Linked DNA regions of Homo sapiens. The protein of the gene in region 2 interacts with the protein of the main gene of each other region in a pairwise test. Each region holds a gene or a part of one and is shown on either strand. Other genes may lie near its edges.

The links.
Region 1: the proteins of RPAIN (region 2) and RAD51B interact in binary tests that used the Homo sapiens proteins (3 or more experiments, as listed by UniProt).

The regions. Positions count from the first base shown.
Region 1 is NC_000014.9:67,885,753-67,892,791, reverse strand, and holds part of RAD51B (DNA repair protein RAD51 homolog 2), read right to left. Parts: intron 6,924-7,039; coding exon 6,804-6,923; intron 5,772-6,803; coding exon 5,588-5,771; intron 1-5,587. UniProt on the Homo sapiens protein: Involved in the homologous recombination repair (HRR) pathway of double-stranded DNA breaks arising during DNA replication or induced by DNA-damaging agents. May promote the assembly of presynaptic RAD51 nucleoprotein filaments.
Region 2 is NC_000017.11:5,423,143-5,430,181, reverse strand, and holds part of RPAIN (RPA-interacting protein), read right to left. Parts: intron 4,212-7,039; coding exon 4,100-4,211; intron 4,046-4,099; coding exon of another isoform or gene 3,975-4,045; exon of another isoform or gene 3,953-3,974; intron 3,947-3,952; coding exon 3,883-3,946; intron 2,112-3,882; coding exon 1,971-2,111; coding exon of another isoform or gene 1,905-1,970; exon of another isoform or gene 521-1,904; intron 1-520. UniProt on the Homo sapiens protein: Mediates the import of RPA complex into the nucleus, possibly via some interaction with importin beta.

The DNA.
Region 1 (7,039 bases), on a different chromosome or scaffold from region 2:
TTTCTATTGAGGGTCAGTCACTAGGCATGCAATGCCTGCATGCAGATGACCTCAGCTATTTAGATTGTAGTCCCCAGATCCCCAGAGAAAAATAGGCTTCACCATAAATCACACTGTTTGCATAAACAATCTGATCAAACCAGTACCTGTGGCTCAAGTCCTCAGGCATATAACACCCTTACTAGGCAGAGTATTCCCAGGGCCCAGCACTCATCTCCCAGGAGCCAGGCAAGGGCAGTCCTGAAAAGAGGCCTTTTTTGGGAATGGCTGGATATGAGTAACCCATGCTAGCTGAATTAACCCTTGCCTGCATAACCTATGAATCCATTTCTGGGCTAAACCATTCATTGTAACAGTGGCACAATATAATATTGTATGGATATGTCAACATTAATTTAGCCAATCACCTACTTACTAACTTTTAAGTTGTTTCTAGGTTTTTGCTAGAAACAATAAAAACAAAGTTTCAGAAGTCATAAAGAGCTACATAAAAGAAAGATACACTTTTTCTAGAATTATTTTCACTAACTGATAAAGGTTTAGTCTAGACTGTGAGTTTCAGGGACCTGAATGAACATAGGATAGGTTTAAGAACAATCTGATTTCAAATGTGAGTGAGCCAACAGTAAGCATTTATGGAAAAGAAAAATCCTGTAAAGGACTTTTCTTACCTCAGAAGTCCTGTGGTGCTTGTTTTCAGTAAAAATATGAAAGTAATAAGAGTAAACCAAAAATTACATTTCTAGAAAAGTGATACAACAATGTTACACACAGCAAAACAGGACTGCAGTTTTAATGGCATATCTATGTCTACATCAAGGGTCTAGGATTCCTACTTTACAATCAGAGTGACTTCATCAGGCTTTCACAAAAGTGACAGTTCTGAATATTTATGTTTAAGATAAAAATAAATGTCGAATTTGGGTACATACATTCTTTTTCCTCTTATCTCACCAGTTATAAACACAATATTCCCAATTTATAATTAATAAAACCTTAATTATTTTAAATGAAGTGGCCTAGTTTCTTATTTTTCTATTTTGAATATTTATTAGTATCTAAGACAAGGTATAATCCTGCATAAATTAAACCCACTTGGCATAATGGAACAGCTCATGGTGTAAAATAAATAAATAAATAAATAAATCCAGGCCCACATGAAGTTCACCATTAAAAAGAGGAAAAAAAAATTTGTGCTTGTCTCAAATAATAATAAAAAATTTAACCTTGTTATATGTCCACTTTAAAACCAGAACAAATTCTTTCCATTTGTTAATGATTTAAAACTGTCTTTAAAATAGCAAAATTTAAAATGCACATATTTTGATTCATTTGTCTAAGCAGCTTTAAACATAAAAATAATCACTAATATTCCAAAAACCTTGATAAGCAATAAATTAGAGCAATGGATATTCTCAAAAGGCATGTAATCAAGAACACAGATGGCCACAGAAAAACGGATTATAAGCACATCTTAGTAAAATAATTTGGATTTTAACAACAACTTTCAATGAAAATAAGGCATTTCCCTCTTAGAATATTTAATAATATATCCAAATTTATCTCCATAAACCTCTTTTGTAAATAGTGTTAACTGGTACTCCTCCCCTTACACCAGAAAACATTTGTACAATATCAAGAAATGAAGGAAGTAGAAGAAGATTAAGGGGAGACAAAAAAGTTCAATATTATTCATATAACAACTGAAATTGATTTGTTGAATTCTCTGAAAAAGTAAAAATGTAGACCTTGGAAATACCAGTAAAAAGCATTTCCAAAGAATTTTCAAAAGGTGAAAGTCCTGTTATCTAAGCAATGCATTTTCATTTTCTTTTATTCCAACAACTTATAAAACTCTGGAATGGAAAATAAATAAAAAGAATACAACTAAGATGGCATACTACAAAGGTCAATTTAAAAACAAAAACATAAGAATTTCAGCAGCAAGCATAAAAAAATTCAAATTATGTTTTAAAAGATAAAGAAAAATATTCCAATGAATGTAAATATGACATACATATGGTAAGACTATTTTCATAAACCTTAATTGTACTTTCATTAGCTGTTACCTCCTAAATATTAGTTATCCACAGTGCTAGGTCCTGGAAATCAGAGAAACAGAAAATATAATCCTGTCATTAAGAAGTTTACACTCTGGGGACTGTTGTGGGGTGGGGGGAGGGGGGAGGGATAGCACTGGGAGATATACCTAATGCTAGATGACGAGTTAGTGGGTGCAGCGCACCAGCATGGCACATGTATACATATGTAACTAACCTGCACATTGTGCACATGTACCCTAAAACTTAAAGTATAATAATAATAATAAATAAATAAAAAGAAGTTTACAGTCCACCGTAATTCTGTATGTCTCAGAAAAAAAGAAAATTCTGCTGTGGAAAAAAAAAAATCCCCAAACTGGCAGCTAAAAGATCTCTCATTCTACCCACTGTTTGTCCTTTCCTATGTTGAGTGTCCTGGAGCAAATCAGGTCACTTTTCGGATTCATTGTCATCTGTAAAATGAAGGGGCCAAACTAAATTTTCTTTAAGGTCCTTTCTGGCAAAAACATCCTATTATTTTAATCTGATACATAATTTACAATACGTATAATAACTATTCTGTACGTGGTAATTAGAAGTCAATGATAAAGTCAACATAAATAGCCATAACCACAATTTATTTTATAAAGCAGTATTTAAATTTTTTTCGGTTACTTTTATCCAGTATCTCTAAACAGCTTCAGAGCCTACTGTTTTTTCAATACTAGTGTGAACACTTTAAAAAGACAAAGGTTCCGCATCTTCCATCCCAATGGCAGAGTATCACTTACACCTCCTCCATAAACTTCAGGAGAAAAGATTCTACCAGACTTCTACAACTGTTTCTCAAAACTGCAGTCTGAACATACTCAAAGGTCTATAAAATTCTCTGTGAAAATTTTTTAATTTTATGTTTTCATTTCAGTGATAGCCTCAAAATATTAGTAAAGCCATCTTATAATTGAAAACTTCTGAAAGATATTAATACATCTGTTTTCAATCAAGTGATATCGATTAATTCCTCTTTAATTCTCAGGGACTAACGTAGAAAAAAGCAACAGCATACTTAAAACTTAAATGCATTCATGCGCACATAAGGGCCAAATGATGTCACCCTTCCCAAAAGACGAGGTTTTCTAGTACTAGTTCAAATAGAGAAAGGGGGGGAAAAGCTGAATAATCACATTTTATATATTTATATATTTTTATTATATATATTTTTTATTTTTATATATTTATATTTATATACATATTTCAAGACAATCTGTGAGGTAAGCTTATATATATAGCAAGCAATAATTTAATTTAGCAAATTATCATATATAACATATTAAATTGACATAATTAATTTGAACAGTACTATGGTGCCTGTTCAAAGTACAGTATAAATGTGTAAAAGTTCATGATTTCCTTTTTTTTTTTTTAATTAAATCTCGGACCTGTGTGAGAGATTTTCCATTTAAATGTATCAATTTAGCTAGGAAAATTCCAACATTTTCTAAAGGAAATATTTTTCAAAATCCTTTTAAAACCAATCTTACAATCTTAATTGTCACAAAAAACAGATATCACAGTTATATAAGTACATAGTATAATCTGCATTTATTTCTAAATAGAGAAACAAAGCCAAAGGCATAGAAATGGGATATTCAGTACCTATTTTTTCAGAGGGTTCTATTAAAAACAAAGAAAAGCAGTGCCCCTTTCTCACTTGGGAAAATAAATCACCTTAGGAAAAACTGAAAAGCATTAGCCTACAGTTACTACTTAAAAGCAAACAAACACAACATTTAAAAAGTGAATTTTATTTTGCACGGAATTAAGTCAAGCAACAGTATGAATTAATAATAAAATAAGAATATATAGTCATCCCCCTGTATCCATGGGGGATTGGTTCCAGGACTCCTCTGCAGATACCATAATCCACGGATGCTCAAGTCCCTCATATAAAATGGTGCAGTGTTTGCACATAATCTATGTACATTCTCTGGTATACTTTAAATCAACTTTACATTACTTATAATACCCAATACAATGTACATGCTATGTAAATCTCTGCTTAACTATAGGGAATCATGACAAGAAAAAAGTCTGTACATGTTCAGTACAAAGACAACTATCCTTTTCTTTTCTTTCAAATATATATATATATTTTTAGAGAGAGGGTCTCACTCTGTCTCCCAGGCTGAAGTGCAGTGACATGAACATGGCTCAATGCAACCTCAACCTCCTGCGCCTAAGTGATCCTCCCACCTCAGCCTCTTGAGTAGCTGAGACTGCAGGGGCACACTACCACACCCATTGCTTTTTCAAATATCTCCTATCTTTAGTTGGTTGAATCCATGGATGCAGAACCCACAGATACAGAGGGCCAACTATATACATAACTTTCTATTCAATCAAGTATCTTTATACAGTATTTCAAAGTTCCCTTATTCTCCTTGATCAGGAAAAATATAAATTTGAATTTATCATTTTAACCAACTACAATAAAATGTAAAAGATGAACATCACCCAAGACAAACTTAACAGCACTTGACTTTAATTCAAAATATAAACTAAAAAGCCATTAAAGTATGCAGAACTTTTTGAATGTCATATTTTCTCCCTTGACTTCTTCCTTGGTTTTATAAACCTCAAAGGCTGTGTGATAGTTTATATTATTTATACATATTCTTTATGTTGCAAAGATCCAAGATTTTAATTTTCCAAAAACAAATCTAAAAATTATAAAATCATAACCAAATTTTATCTCAGTTTAAGGAACTATCTTTTCTTGAGATGAAGCATGACTAAAATTGAGAAGCCTGAATGTTGATGAGGCTGTGGAACAACGACTAAAACTCCCTGACACACTGCAGATGGGAGTGTAACTTAGTACACACTTACGTCTTGCAGGTTACACATCACAAGCCCTTGTAATAGCCTGTCATCTTCAGATTTCTGATCACAATGCCCGCTACAAAAAGCCATGCCACAAATAATCTTTCAAGGTTTTCTTACTGACACTTTCATTACTATCATTCCAACATCTCTTAATGGTTGACCTCTGACCATTTGAAGCAAACCAAATCCTATTGTACACAAAACAGCGCTGAACACAATAACACAGTATCTAAACCTAAAATACTTAAAACAAAACTAACAACAACTGCAGTATTTTTTTTAATTATATAGAAATAGATCTAGGCAATTTCATGAAGTTTTACTACTTTATATTTACTGCAGTGTGAGAAATGTGATACAAAGCACACACAAAGAGTAAACAATGAGAAGGAAGAAAAGGAGGGACTATAGGAACTTTTAAAAACATCGTTTAAATCTACTCCAGACTCAAATTATTAAAATAATAAAATAATCTCAGCAGATGAGCTAATTTAAGATGATGGCGATGTTTGCTATAGCAATTAGACTGTACTACCTTTAAAAAGTCATCTGTTTTACATTTTCCTCTAATTTTATTATTTGATACCATAAGTCAGTGAATGTAATATAAAAGAAACAAAAGAAAGGAAAAGAAAAAAGAGAAAAAAAGAAAAACTTACTGGGATTGAAAACTCCTCAGCCAAATACTTCAAGGAGGATGCCTCTCTTGCCAAGAACTTGTTTCTTTCTTTGAGATTGCCTTGAAGTTGTGCATCAAACTCCTTTCTGACCACAGAAGCAACAGAGTCAAGAATCACAAGTTTAATTCCTTTTGAGATAATTTCTTCTTCCAAAGATTCAATCCTATAAAAGAAGAATTTATAAAATAGTCAATAAATTTAAGATAAAATAAATAAATAAAGGTATTGCAAAGGCTAAGCAACTTAAAAACAATAAACTATTCTTTCCTAAGTTACAGTAATGATTTGCAAGAATTCAGTAAACCTAACTTGTAGACATATCATACTTTTCTGGAAACAGAGCAAACTGTTTCTGTGTAGTTTCAGAATTCCTTGATTCTCCTAAGATAATGTTAACGCTCCAATTCTGGGGTAAAACTACTTGTGGTAGCCAGTCTGCAAAATGGCCCACACTTACTCCCTCCTCTTGGTATTTTGCATCCTTGTATAGGTCCCTCCCACAGTGTGCCAGACTTGATCTGTATGACCACAAGCATATGACAAGATCATGGTACCTTATTTCTGAGTGTGGGTTATAAAAGACTACAGCTTCCATCTTGGGTACTCTTTCACTTGCCCAGTCTCTCAGGTCACTTACTCTGAGGAAAGCAACTTGCTATGTTGTGATTTATGGAGAGGCCCAGACGGTAAGGAACAAAGGTCTCTTGCCCACTGCCAGCAAGAAACAGAGGGCTTCCAACAACTATATTAGGGAGCTTGGAAGCAGGTACTCCAGCTCCAGTCAAGCCTTAAGATAACTGCAGCCCTGGCCACCAGCTTGACTATAACCTCTTGAGCGACATTGAGCCAGAAACACCCAGCTAAGCTACTCCCAGACACTTAACCCTCAGAAACTATGTGAAATAATATGTATTTGCTGTTTTAAGCTACTAAACTGTGAGACAATTTGTTAATGAAACAATAGATAAATAATACACCACTTAATTAATTAAATACAGAACATTTTATTCATTTAATTTTTTTTGTTTTTCAAGAAAGACTTCAACCAAAAGGCTATAACAAAGAAGAACACTGAAAAAGTTACTCCACATAATTCTAACCTATAAAGACTTTTTTCACTTAGAAGCTGAAACATAAAAGATAAAACATAAACCTTCAACGCATTACTAAAAAATCAAAATCTAAAGCAGCATACCTTTGTAGAACTTCATCACAGGTGAGTTCCCGATAAAGATGAACTTTACTACTTGTCAAAAGTAACTTTTCTTCAGTGTTAAAATATCTGGGAAAACGGGATTCTGCTATTTCAACCAGTCTGTGGGTGAAAAAAATAGCACAAACGAAAACAGTCAATTCTACTTAAAGCCACATTGCTGAATCTCTAATTAATTTTACTTGAGAAACTCCTAAGCCTTATCAATAGAGCAGGTA
Region 2 (7,039 bases):
CCAATTCTGTTTTTGAGACAGAATCTCACCCTGTTGCCCAGGCTGGAATCCAGCAGCACGATCTCAGCTCACTGCAACCTCCGCCTCCCGGGTTCAAGCGATTCTCCTGCCCCAGCCTCCCGAGTAGCTGAGATTACAGGCACCCACCACCATGTCCAGCTAAGTTTTGTATTTTTAGTAAAGATGGGGTTTCACCATGTTGGCCAGGCTGGTCTTAAACTCCTGACCTCAGGTGATCTGCCCACCTCGGCCTCCCAAAGTGCTGGGATTACAGGCGTGAGCCACCGTGGCCAGCTGAGACTGGCCAATTCCTTGTGAGGAATCAGGCTGAATGAAGTACACGGCATATTGTAGTGCTTGGTAAATATTTGTGCAAATGATCCTTAAATGTAGTGGGAGGAGTCAAAGTCATTCAGACAGAACAGCCTAAACAACAGCACAGAGGCCTGAAAGCACTGCATATTTGAGCATCTGCTACCAGTGCTGGATAGCTGGAACAGAAGGGAACATATGCTTGTAGTCAACAGGAAGTAGTGAGGGGTTTTATTTAAACTTTCACCTGCTATGTCTCTTTCCATACAAGCTGATGGAAAATGGCATCCTTCCACCAAGGCCTGAGCCTGGAGCAGGAAACAGCAGGGGCACTGGAACCACAAAGACCTGGGGTCTAACACCAGCTCTATCGCTTATTAGTAGTAAAATTTTGGCCAGATTACATCACTTCTCTGAATCTGTTTCCTATTCCTAACAGGAACTATCCTCTCCCTCATGAACCTAATGCTCCAGCTAAGTAGAACAAGATGCTCTTTGTATATACTCCAGTTTCCTGCTTCTCTGCCTTGTTCTTCTATGTGGGGATCTTCCACTTAAGCTCTACCCCCACAACTCACCAGATCTCCATGTCTGTCCAGATCGATTCCATGCTTCAAGGCCAAGTTAAATGCCTCCTCCAGGAAGGTGTCACCATAAAGGAGATCACCCTCCTCTGAACTCCCATAAGCCCTCCTTGTACAGCTCTCCAGGGTACTGCCTGTTTATTCTGTTCTCTTATTACCAACCCAAGGCTTGAGCTCTGTGAGAGATGTGTATTTCTCAATGTTAATGAGTCCTCAATTCATTTTTTTTTTAATGAATGAGTAGAATACCTATGGAAGAAACTTGATAAAGGTGAAATGGCTGTTACCAGGCAATGCTGCTTATAATAAAAATGACCTCTGTAGGTTAACTGCATTTGGAATGACAGGGCCATGAAGGAATTCTAAATTCCCAGTAGAAAGCCATGGCTATGAACTTCCTGAAGTACAGTGTGCTCCTAATCCCAAGGCTCCCCCTGCCTGGGATCTAAAAGCAATAATAATACGTATCATATTGGTTTTATGTGTGTTTGTGTGATATATATACACATGTACATACATACATACACATATATGGAAAGGACATGGATTATAAGAGATATTGGTTCCTATAGCACGCTTCTAAGACAGGTGGTTCCCTTACCCACTTGTGTTCCTGGCCCTCACACCTCAGTTGTCACTCAGGTTAGCGAATAGCCCTTGGACCTCTGTAAAAACTCCACTGACAGACAAACCTAATGCTGCCCTGCTATGCTTCTGCCCTGTTTCCTTCCGCAAAAGTGGTGCCAGCATGGCCTATCTGGGTCTTATGACTATGAAATGACCAGCTGAATCCAAAACCACTACTACTGATCAAAGAAGAGCAGGTGTGGAGCCAGGCGTCCTAACTCCCAGACCAATCCTCTTGCCGTGATCCCATGCTGCCTCTTCCCTTCTTTCTGACTGGCCTTTGAGTCTAAATGACTTGTTACCTTCACTTTTCTATGCAGGTAAATTCCTCAGATAATAAACTGCATTAAACATTTACCTGTTTATAGGTCATTATTTCTATCAAGGTGGGAATAAAACCAACCACAGGTCCCTCTTACCACAGAGTGGGTCCCAGGAGACGCTTACCAGACAGCTCATGAGAAGACTGGACTTTTCTTCTGTTCCTCCAGTGACTGAAAATTCAGGTGTGTGGGGACAATGTGCACTGTGCTCATTTATACTACCCTCTAAACAGGCACGAAGCTTCTGCTCTGTCAACTCAGAAGACTACAAAATAAAAAAGTTCAACCTCCTCTCAGTGACTTGATAGCCAACAGATGGAAAATCCTCATTCCTCATGCCAACCAATATAACCGTGGCTCACTGTGATGGCTTGACTCCTTGGAGCCTTAAAGACACTCGGGCCCATGACTGTACCAAGATCTCTTAACCCATCTCCATTTAACTGCCTCTCCAGATTAACCAACGCCCTCTACTCCTGCTGTCAAACACACTGATGGCCACTCATGGCAGGAAGAACGCTCAGAGATTGTAGGCTACTTTCCAGCCTCCCTCTGCCTCTGCCCCCACCAGCTGAGTGCATCCTTACCAACAACTAGCAGTATATGCTCCCGGGTCTGCTTGGGTTACTTGAACTTCCTACTGTAACTCAGTAATGCTAATTACTTATTATGTAAATAATAAGTTTTATTTTTATAGTGATAAGTAGAATGTTTAGGAAACAAACAGATGAGCTGCTTAAAAAAAAAAGAAAGAAAGAAAAAGAGCTATAGAATTAGGTAAAAGATGGGGAGGAAAAATTCCTAAGTTGTATACTCAGTTTCTTGATCCACTTTATGGAATTAAAACCGGAAACTCTGGACTATGTATTATAGAAGTTGTTTATGTAAAAAAGGTGACTCAGCGAGGCACAGTGGCTCACGCTTGTAATCCCAACACTTTGGGAGGCCAAGGTGGGCAGATCACCTGAAGTCAGGAGTTCGAGACCAGCGTGACCAACATGGTGAAACCCCGTCTCTACTAAAAATACAAAAATTAGCCAGGCATGGTGGCACGTGCCTGTAATCCCAGCTACTCAAGAGGCTGAGGCAGGAGATTCGCTTGAACTCGGGAGGTGGAGGTTGCAGTGAGCAGAGATCACACCACTGCACTCCAGCCTGGGTGACAGAGTGAGACTCTGTCTCAAATAAAATAAAAAATAAAACAGGTGACTCAGCTCTCCAATCAGCAGGGCCCCACTCAAAGGCTGGCAAATAAATTTATGTGTTTGAAACTTACCATAAAACATTTTATTTTTATAATTTGCCTCTTTAACCAATCGCTCAATTAACTGGCAAACTTGCAGTCCCCATCATGCCAGATAAAAGGGCTTTTTCTGTATTTTAAGATTACTGAAGGCCGGGCGTGGTGGCTCACACCTGTAATCCCAGCACTTTGGAAGGCTGAAGTGGGTGGATCACGAAGTCAGGAGTTCGAGACCAGCCTGGCCAAGATGGTGAAAACCCATCTCTACTAAAAATAAAAAAAAAATTAGCCGGGCGTGGTGGCAGGCACCTGTAATCCCAGCTACTTGGGAGGCTGAGGCAGGAGAATGACTTGAACCCGCAAGGCAGAGGTTGCAGTGAGCCTAAATCACGCCACTGTACTCCAGCCTGGGCAACAGAGTGAGACTCCGTCTCAAAAAAAAAAAAAAAAAAATTACTGAAGCTTAAATTCTGAATTAGGTATGTCTTCATATATAGAAAATTTTTATGAAACGTCAGATACAGGCGTTACCAATCCCAAGCTGAGGTCTCCATAAAAACGTTAAGCGGTGATGGCTCTCCAGGGCCCTAAAGGCTCTGATGTGTACTGTTTGCCAATTTTCATGCCATAGATATTCTCACCATGGCTGATTTGAAGCTACCAATGTGACACCACTGAACATAAAACTGGGAAGAAATATGCACAATGGGCTCCAAGTCAGCACTGGAGGATCTTCAAGAAAGTAGATCCATGTGGGAAGAAGTATCATGAAATCTGTGTGTGGAACACTCACATGAGATGGGATGGACAGGCCACACTGACACACCACCACACCGCTTGTGATTCTCAGGTTGTACCTAGAAGCAGAATTAGGATCCCAGAGCATCATGGCCACCAGACCTGGATCTCCAAACCTTGAATTTCAGGCAACAAATCTGGGGGGAGATTCCACTCACCTTGGAGTGGGGAATGGGAACGAATAATGCTGAAAAGGTTTTAAAAACTCTTACTTTGTACATACAGGACAGATGAGTGGGTTTGCCTCCCACTCAGCCAGCATGATGCTGAGACACTTTTCATCAAACTGCAAGCTCTTCTCATACTCGCTGATGATGGACTGCTCTGCAAGGCAAAGGCAGTTGGAGGGCTTCACCATGCTTCAGCTGGCCCTGTATTTAATTCTAAACTTCACTGTCAAAGGCTTCCTTCACACGAGGGAAAGATTTGGGCAAGACCACAATACCAATGACTGGTTTTTATGCTCTCTCAGGCTGGCTTCATCTTGCTGGATTCCTCTCCCTCCTCTCTGTCCCCTTTTTGTGAGCACAAGAGGTGAAGTAGGCTAAGGGCCGAGGAGACAATTTTCACACACATCTCCAGAGGCCATAGGAGCACAGATACAGAATGTCAGGGTCCCACAGGCAACTAAATAAAGTTGACAAAGAGAACTGATTGCTGGCCGGGCACGGTGACTCACACCTGTAATCCCAACACTTTGGGAGGCTGAGGCAGGCAGATCACTCGAGGTCAGGAGTTCGAAACCAGCCTGGCCAACATGGTGAAACCCATCTCTACTAACAAACACAAAAAATTAGCCAGGCATGTGGCGCACGTCTATAATCCCAGCTACTCGGGAGGCTGAGGCAGAAGAATCACTTGAACCCAGGAGGCGGAGGTTGCAGTGATCCGAGATTGCGCCACTGCACTCCAGCCTGAGTGACAGAGCGAGACTCTGTGTCAAAAAAAAAAAAAAGAGAGAACTGATTTCTGATGCCAGGACGACCCTGCTGATTCCACATACTTGGAATCTGTGTTGTTCAGAATCTGTGTGCTCATTCATTCAGCAAACATACAACAGTACCTAGTATCTGCTAGTCACAGGGGCACAAAGATGAAAAAGACTGTCATTGTTGAGCTCACAGTCTAGACATTAGGGAAGGGGTCAAAAAACTACAGTCACGCTTATTTGTTTATGTAGTGTCTATAACTGCTTTTCCACTAGAACTGCAGAGCTGAGAAATTGTGCCAGAGACCACATGGTCTGTGAAGTCTAAAGTATTTGCTATCTGGCTCTTCACAAAAAGTCTGCCAACTTCTGCTTTAGAATGTTCCTTATGGCTGAGTACAGCACAACACAGTAAATCCTTGTCACTTCAGACTTATTAGTTAAGTATGCCCCAAAATAAAACATTTGGTCAGGCTTATGTTTCACCACTAAGATAGGTTTTGTAGGTGGGGGAAGGGAAAATCAATAAAAAAAGATGATAACTTAAGGAATTTACAGTCTAACCAGAGTCGACAGCAACAGTCATTAACAACTAACACTTGCATGGCACTTATGTGTCAAATGCTATTTTAAATTCCTTACATATATTAACTTCTTCACTATTATTATCCTTATTTCAAAGGTGAAGAAACTGAGGCACGGGGAAATTAAGTGCTTTGGTCGGTGCCACACAAATTAAAGTAGTAAAGCCAAGTGAATGTTAGAGGTATGACTCAAGAGCTTGTGCTCTTGCCTCACCATAATAATAGCTGTTGATTATTGAAAGCTCTCTATATGCCAGACAATGCACTAAGTCTTCTACACACGTTATTTAAGCCTTACAACAAATTTATAGGGTATTCTCTCCATTTTATAGGTCATAAAAATGAAGCCTAAGGCTGGGGGCCATGCCTCATGTCTGTAATCCCAACACTTTGGGAGGCTGAAGTAGGAGGATGGTTTGAGTCCAGCTGTTTGAGACCAGCCTAGGCAACATAGTGAGACCCTGCCTCTACAAAAAAATTTAAAAAATTAGGCTAGGCATTTTGGCTCATGCCTGTAATCTCAAAACTTTAGGAGGCTGAGGTGGGGGGATCACTTGAGACCAGGGAGGAGTTCGAGACCAGCCTGGGCAACACAGTGAGACCCTGTCTCTACAAAAAAATAAAAAAATTAGCTCGGTATGGTGGTGCACACTTGCGGTCCCAGCTACTCGGGAGGCTGAGATGAGAGGATTGGTTGAGCCTAGGAGGATGAAGCCACAGTGAGCCATGATTACATCACTGCACTCCAGCCTGGGCAACAGAGCAAGAACCTATCTCAAAAAAAAAAAAAATACATAAATAAAATAATTTTTTGTCTTGTTTTTATCATCTTTAGCTAAAAAAAAAAAATTAATAAAAAAAAATTAGCCAGGGGTGGTGGCACACGCCTATGATCCCAGCTATTCAGAAGGCTGAGGTGGGAAGATCGCTTAAGCCCAGGAGGTCAAGGCTGCAGTGGGCCGTGATCACGCCACTGCATTCCAGCCTGGGCAGAGACCCTGTCTCAAAAAAAACAAAAACAAAAACCAAACAAGGCCTAATCAAATCAGGGCTACATGGAATAAATGACTTAACTATATAAGGTACAAAATTATGCTCTCTACACCATGCTATGGACACCTCCCTCAAGGAGTGGATGCTCACAGGCCCTGGGGAGTTAATAGAGAATGTGGCACTTAAAATGAATAGGGCAAGGGATCAGACCATGCACTATCACTGTATCCTGTAAAATGGCAGGTTTACTTTTTTTTATTTTATTTTTTAAAGTGACAGGGTCTCCCTCTGTCAGCCAGGCTGGAGTGAGGTGGTAAAATTATAGCTCACTGTAACCTTAAACTCTTGGGTTCAAGTGATCCTCCTGCCTAAGCCTTCTGGCTGAGGGAGGCTACAAGTATTTGCTACCACACCCAGATAATTTTTTTTTTTTTTTTTTTACTTCTGTAGAGACAGGATCTTGTTATGTTGCCCATGCTGGTCTTGAACTGGCCTCAAGCAATACTCCTGCCTCAGCCTCTCAAAATGCTGGGATTACAGGCATAAGCCACCACCCTCAGTGAACTATTAACCCATTAATAGAGAGGCAGGATGGTAGAAGAAACATGGGAACTGGATTCATACAACTGATTTTGCTTCCCATCTCC